2 linked regions of the Homo sapiens genome follow. The protein of the gene in region 2 binds, or shares a complex with, the protein of the main gene of each other region. Each region holds a gene or a part of one and is shown on either strand. Other genes may lie near its edges.

Evidence for each region.
Region 1: WRAP53 (region 2) and GAR1 share a complex: the UniProt entries of both Homo sapiens proteins name them as parts of the telomerase holoenzyme complex.

The regions. Positions count from the first base shown.
Region 1 is NC_000004.12:109,818,612-109,822,361, reverse strand, and holds part of GAR1 (H/ACA ribonucleoprotein complex subunit 1), read right to left. Parts: intron 3,362-3,750; coding exon 3,302-3,361; intron 16-3,301; coding exon 1-15. UniProt on the Homo sapiens protein: Required for ribosome biogenesis and telomere maintenance. Part of the H/ACA small nucleolar ribonucleoprotein (H/ACA snoRNP) complex, which catalyzes pseudouridylation of rRNA.
Region 2 is NC_000017.11:7,686,509-7,690,258, reverse strand, and holds the start of WRAP53 (telomerase Cajal body protein 1), read right to left. Parts: upstream 1,783-3,750; 5' UTR 1,698-1,782; exon of another isoform or gene 1,612-1,697; 5' UTR 1,611-1,611; coding exon 1,180-1,610; intron 1,036-1,179; coding exon 937-1,035; intron 670-936; coding exon 558-669; intron 1-557. UniProt on the Homo sapiens protein: RNA chaperone that plays a key role in telomere maintenance and RNA localization to Cajal bodies. Specifically recognizes and binds the Cajal body box (CAB box) present in both small Cajal body RNAs (scaRNAs) and telomerase RNA template component (TERC).

The DNA.
Region 1 (3,750 bases), on a different chromosome or scaffold from region 2:
TGGGTCTATATAAAACTGGAAACATAATAGAAGCAATTAGTATACAACTTGGGGGACAGTATAATATAATCATTAAGAAGCTACATGATAGAGTCAAAACTGCCTGGGTTCAAACCCCAATCCTACCACTTTCTACTACATATCCCTGGGTAGAGACTTAATTTCTTACTAACTTAGGTTTCTTTTTTTTTTTTTTTTTTTTTTTTACCTTAAGTTCTGGGATACATGTGCAGAACGTGCAGGTTTGTTACATAGGTACACATGTGCCATGGTGGTTTGCTGCACCTATCAACCCATCATCTAGGTTTTAAGCCCCGTATGCATCGGGTATTTGCCCTATTGCTCTCCCTCCCCTTCCCCCCATCCCCCGACAGGCCCAGGTATGTGATGTTTCCCTCCCTGTGTCCATGTGTTCTCACTGTTCAACTCTCACTTACGAGTGAGAACATGTGGTGTTTGGTTTTCTATTCCTGTGTTAGTTTACCTTAGTTTCCTTATCTGTAAAATGTAGAGAATAGAGTATCTATCTCACATGTTTGTGTGATGATCAAAAAAGTGATGTATATAAGGCACTTGTACTTTGGCACACAATAAGCATTACATGCATATTAAAAAATCAAGACCAATTCAATATCATTTCTCTTTAGAAATAGATTATTTAACATTTCCACTCAACAGAACTGCCGTAAGAAAAATAAAACTATTAAAAAACACAGCATTAAAATTCAAAATAAAGCATTCGCATACTAGTTGTTTCAAGTCTTTAATAAAGGATCAAAAGGGTATCTTCTGAACACACAAAGTAATGAAGGATATACAGAAACTATACCCATCCTATAATTGGGGTTAAAGAGGACATTTCTCAAATAATGAGATGTAAAGAGCATATTGTATCATAGTTCTTCTACATAAAACACACGAGGATTTCAAAACTGTAATATATGACTTATAATAAGATCTCTGAATCCCTCTCTAGATATCACCTTATTACTCATCTTCCCTTCACAGCCCATCATCTCAAAAATATTGTCTAGATCTACATTGTTCAATATGGCAGCCACCAGCCACAGGTGGCTTATATTTACATTAATTAATGTTTAAAAATTCAGTTCCTGAGTCACATGAGCCACACTTCACGTGCTCAATAGCTACATGTGGCTAAGAGCTACTTTACTGGGCAGGGATTCCCATCACTACAAAAAGTTCAAGTGGAGAGCACTGGTCTACAAACTTCACAATAACGCAGGCTGGGTAAGGAGGGCTGAATCTCAACATAGCAGGGGGTATGGAAACCGGGAGAGGTAGAATGTACTCAAGTTAGTATCTGTAATTAAAAAGCAAAAACCCAAAAAACTAAACAATAAGCCCCCAAATAAATAATTCTGAGAAATTTAAGTGATTTAAGGGATTCTGATGAATTTAAGTGGCTATTACCAGCATTTTTTTTTCAGGTCACAAGATGAGAATCCCTTTTCAGCATTGTTTCTTTCTGGGCTCAACAGCTCCAGGCACGCCAGAAGCAGTCAATCCCCTGAGTACTTGCCAAGGTTTCTACAACTAGTAGCCATATGCTGACAACAAGCTATTGTCTCCCTCTCATTTCCTAATCCATTCTGGCTCCCGGGCCCACCAATGCACTGGCTCCATGACTCCCTGATGTCTATGTGGCTGTCTTCCAATGAACACTTTGCAGCCTTTTGCCATAGCTGAGCAGTCCCTCCTGGAAACACTCTTTCAATTTTTGTGATACCACTTTTATGACAGGCTTGTGGTTTGCCTTTTTTTTTTTAACTGGCAATTACTTCTGAGTTTCCACTACCAGACCTTTAGTTTTAGGAGGTGCCCCAAAACTCTTCATAGGTGCTCTTTTCCTTTCATTCTTTCTTCCTACAATGTTTCATGTACTGTCTGTATACTTAACAAATTCCCAATTCTATTTCCAGTCTAGACTCTTCCTTTAAACTGACCATGACTGTCTCACAAGTACCTCAACCTCACTATGTCCAAAACCCAACTCATTATCTTCCCCCAATCCCCCTCCTCTGCATTGTTGCCCATTTCATTAATTGGTACCATCACCCACAAAGATGTTGATGTCAGACATCTGAAAGATGGTGATTTTTTTACTTCTTCAATTTCAATAGCTAGTCAATTACCAAGTCCTATTGATTCTACTTCCTGTATCTTTCATAAATCCATTTTTTCCATTTCCACTGTCACTACCGAGTCCAAAATACCATCTCTTTTAGAACTACTATTATAGCCTCCTATCTGGCCCCTCTCACACAATATTGACCGCTTCCCAAGGTGCCTTTTTATCTTCCCAGTATTCTTTTGAAGCATTCATTTAACTGTGTTATCCCATTATTCAAAAATAAAACACAATTGAAACTAAGGTCTAAACTCTTTCCTGTCACCTGAAGGCTTAAGTTAATCAAGCCCCCTCCTACCTCTCTGGTCTTAATTCACAACTTTCCCCACCTCTCCTAAATGTTTCATTCCTAACCTATATGTCTGCCTTTTTGTATCCTTTCAGTTGCCTGCTCTCAGAGACTGCACATACTGTTTTCTCTACTTGGAATGCACTTTCCTCTTCCTCTTTGACTAGCTCAGCAGCTCTCAAGTGTTTGACTAACTACATCAAAATTATCCAAGTGCTTTTCCTTTTTAAAATTGAATCCTGGACGCTACTTAAGAGCTCCTAGGTCAAATTTCCAGAAGTGGAAACTAGAGATACATCTTCTTAAAAGCTCCCCAAGATAACTCTGACATGCAACCAGGTGTGGAAATCACTGTTAGTCAACAATCAGGCCTCAGCTTCAAGCTCACTTTTTCAGGAAACACTACAGACTTAAAAAGCTGGTGGCACTACAAAGCTTCTCATGGCAACCTGTATTTTTCCTTCATAGCATATATCATGTTATTGAAGTTCTTGTGAAATCACTTAGTACCTACCGCCTCTCAAATAACGTAAGTTTTACAAATTAAGATTCTACCTAGAATGTTTGGTCATGAAAGCTTTTCAATAAGAGAGTTTTACATAAACAAAAAACTCTTACTCTAGCAGTTTACAGATTTTGGTAATATGAGCAAAAGTTGTAATTTTTACTTTCTAAAGGCTGTATCAAATAAATCACTTTTAAAGATTAGTGTGTTCAATATTTATAGCATGGAACATTTCAATTTAAGAGCTTTACTAGTGATATGTTGGGAAAGTCTCAAGTGCTCCAAGTAGGACTTTCCTAAGATAGGTCGTTCCCTTATAAAACCAAGGATCCCAAGTATCATAAGTTTGACTCACCTTCTGTAGTTTTTTAAAGGATGAAGCCTTCATGTTTTCTGACAACTTAACTGAAAAATACTATTATTTTCATTAAGGAACAAATGAGCAATTAAGATGAAAGATGATATCAAATGTTCTGAATTCATGTATAATTTCAAAAACAAGGTTAGAATGTATGGATATATATAGGAAAGATAAGAAATGAATTTCCAGGGGCTGGGCGTGGTGGCTCACACCTGCAAACCCAGCACTTCGGGGGGCCAAGGCGGATGGATCACTTGAGGCCAGGAGTTTGAGACCATCCTGGCCAACATGGTGAAACCCCACCTCCACCAAAAATACAAAAATCAGCCGGGCATGGTGGCGCTCACCTGTAATCTCAGCTACTTGAAAGGCTGAGGCACGAGAATTGCTCGAACCCAGGAGGCGGAGGTTGTAGTGAGATGAGATCGTGCCACTGCACTCCA
Region 2 (3,750 bases):
AATAGCTATAAGCCAGGCACGGTGACTCACACCTGTGATCCCCGCACTTTGGGAGGCCAAGGTGGGCGGATCCTCTGAGGTCAGGAATTTGATATCAGCCTGCCCAACATGGCGAAACCCCGTCTCTACTAAAACTATAAAAATTAGTCGAGTGTGATGGCGTGCGCCTGTAATACCAGCTACTTGTGAGGCTGAGGCAGGAGAATCGCTTGAACCCGGGAGGCAGAGGTTGCAGTGAGCCGAGATCACACCACAGCACTCCAGCCTGGGTGACAGAGCAAGACCTTGTCTCAAAAAAATAAGAAATAGAAATATATATATGCTGCCACAAGAAATTCACTACTTTTTAGCAAAAAACACAGATTCCTAATTAAAGAAAGGGGAAACCTCTCTCTAAATAACTTCAGAATTCGGGGCAGAAAACGCTACATGTGGAAACTCGTCTTGAAAAACAGTCCCGTTTGTGAACAGGAAACACTTGGACTACACTTTTTCCATCTCCACGAAGGACTTAAATGTGCAGCATTGATGAAGAGGCAGTTAGCCCCAGTCCTTACCATTTCTGCATATTCCACCTGCTCCCCCTCATGGTACAGCTCTGGGGGCAGGTTATAAATTCGCAAGATGTTATCAGCACTATTGGTCAAGATGCAGGAACCGTCAGGAGCCCTAGAAACAGGGGAGAGTTAGAAAGCTGGCCAGACCTATGCTTTTCAAGTGTAGGGCTAGGGCTGAGCCTGCCTCTGGGGTAGGTAAGCCCCCCTGAATCCTTGAGGGAAGTAGAAGACACAAACTGCTAGATAAAATGTAAGCTCAGTCTAAAAGGGCTACGTGCCGCTTCTCCCAGCTCTGGGGCATCCCTCTCCTAGAAAACTGGACTGTTTTACAGTGAAAATCTCGGGGGTGGTCAGCTCCCTGCCCCGTTGTTATCCTTACCACTTACAGCCTTTCAAGAAGTTCTCAGGTTGGGTGCTGAACTCTGACCAGGAACCACTGAGAAATCGAGGCAGCTGGGAGAAGCTGTAGTTCCAAGCGCTGAAAGGAAGATGGGGGACAATAAACCTGGGTCGCCAAGCAAAGGGGGCAGAGGCCTGGAGAAGTGGGTCTCAGGACCAGAGGACAGATCGACCTCACACTTCATCTCCCCAGACTCCACACTCCACTGCCATCACCACTTACGTGTCTCCCTCGTCCTCTGCAGCGGGTTCCCCAGAGGTATCTTCCATGGCTTTTCCAGACCCCAACTCTGGCCCGTTCGCTTCTTCTTCAGAAAGGCTCCCGTTTGCTTCTTCTGCAGGAAGGCTTGTATTTTCAGAAAGTTCTTGCTCCTCGATTCGAGGACTCAACTCACTAGGGGAACCAAACTCTGTTTCCAGGGGAGTGGAGAGAGAAACTGGGTCCCCCTCCCGTAGCTCCTGGGACACAGCTGAGCCAGCCACAGGATCTGGGGACAACCGGGGCGGATCCCCCCTTTCGGGAGGCGGTGGCATCAGTTCAGAGTCCGCATTTTTATTCATCGGGGAAGCGTGGGGAGAAGGATGGGCTGGAGCTGGGTCCTGGTCTGAAGGACAGCAGTCCGGAGCTAACGGTTGAGTCTCCAAAGTCTTCATACTGCAGAGGAAGCACAGCGGAGATTAGCCTCAGCCAGGATGGCTTCGAAGTTCTCAGGGATCCGACGCAGAGCTAAAGAAACCCACCTGTGCTTCCCTCCTCTTCTGGGAGTAGGCAGAAGACTCCCGGGAGGAGAGGCGAACAGCGGACGCCAATTCTTTTGAAAGCACTGTGTTCCTTAGCACCGCGGGTCGCTACGGGCCTCTTGCTGTCGCGGGATTTCGGTCCACCTTCCGATTGGGCCGCCGCATCCCGGATCAGATTTCGCGGGCGACCCACGGAACCCGCGGAGCCGGGACGTGAAAGGTTAGAAGGTTTCCCGTTCCCATCAAGCCCTAGGGCTCCTCGTGGCTGCTGGGAGTTGTAGTCTGAACGCTTCTATCTTGGCGAGAAGCGCCTACGCTCCCCCTACCGAGTCCCGCGGTAATTCTTAAAGCACCTGCACCGCCCCCCCGCCGCCTGCAGAGGGCGCAGCAGGTCTTGCACCTCTTCTGCATCTCATTCTCCAGGCTTCAGACCTGTCTCCCTCATTCAAAAAATATTTATTATCGAGCTCTTACTTGCTACCCAGCACTGATATAGGCACTCAGGAATACAACAATGAATAAGATAGTAGAAAAATTCTATATCCTCATAAGGCTTACGTTTCCATGTACTGAAAGCAATGAACAAATAAATCTTATCAGAGTGATAAGGGTTGTGAAGGAGATTAAATAAGATGGTGTGATATAAAGTATCTGGGAGAAAACGTTAGGGTGTGATATTACGGAAAGCCTTCCTAAAAAATGACATTTTAACTGATGAGAAGAAAGGATCCAGCTGAGAGCAAACGCAAAAGCTTTCTTCCTTCCACCCTTCATATTTGACACAATGCAGGATTCCTCCAAAATGATTTCCACCAATTCTGCCCTCACAGCTCTGGCTTGCAGAATTTTCCACCCCAAAATGTTAGTATCTACGGCACCAGGTCGGCGAGAATCCTGACTCTGCACCCTCCTCCCCAACTCCATTTCCTTTGCTTCCTCCGGCAGGCGGATTACTTGCCCTTACTTGTCATGGCGACTGTCCAGCTTTGTGCCAGGAGCCTCGCAGGGGTTGATGGGATTGGGGTTTTCCCCTCCCATGTGCTCAAGACTGGCGCTAAAAGTTTTGAGCTTCTCAAAAGTCTAGAGCCACCGTCCAGGGAGCAGGTAGCTGCTGGGCTCCGGGGACACTTTGCGTTCGGGCTGGGAGCGTGCTTTCCACGACGGTGACACGCTTCCCTGGATTGGGTAAGCTCCTGACTGAACTTGATGAGTCCTCTCTGAGTCACGGGCTCTCGGCTCCGTGTATTTTCAGCTCGGGAAAATCGCTGGGGCTGGGGGTGGGGCAGTGGGGACTTAGCGAGTTTGGGGGTGAGTGGGATGGAAGCTTGGCTAGAGGGATCATCATAGGAGTTGCATTGTTGGGAGACCTGGGTGTAGATGATGGGGATGTTAGGACCATCCGAACTCAAAGTTGAACGCCTAGGCAGAGGAGTGGAGCTTTGGGGAACCTTGAGCCGGCCTAAAGCGTACTTCTTTGCACATCCACCCGGTGCTGGGCGTAGGGAATCCCTGAAATAAAAGATGCACAAAGCATTGAGGTCTGAGACTTTTGGATCTCGAAACATTGAGAACTCATAGCTGTATATTTTAGAGCCCATGGCATCCTAGTGAAAACTGGGGCTCCATTCCGAAATGATCATTTGGGGGTGATCCGGGGAGCCCAAGCTGCTAAGGTCCCACAACTTCCGGACCTTTGTCCTTCCTGGAGCGATCTTTCCAGGCAGCCCCCGGCTCCGCTAGATGGAGAAAATCCAATTGAAGGCTGTCAGTCGTGGAAGTGAGAAGTGCTAAACCAGGGGTTTGCCCGCCAGGCCGAGGAGGACCGTCGCAATCTGAGAGGCCCGGCAGCCCTGTTATTGTTTGGCTCCACATTTACATTTCTGCCTCTTGCAGCAGCATTTCCGGTTTCTTTTTGCCGGAGCAGCTCACTATTCACCCGATGAGAGGGGAGGAGAGAGAGAGAAAATGTCCTTTAGGCCGGTTCCTCTTACTTGGCAGAGGGAGGCTGCTATTCTCCGCCTGCATTTCTTTTTCTGGATTACTTAGTTATGGC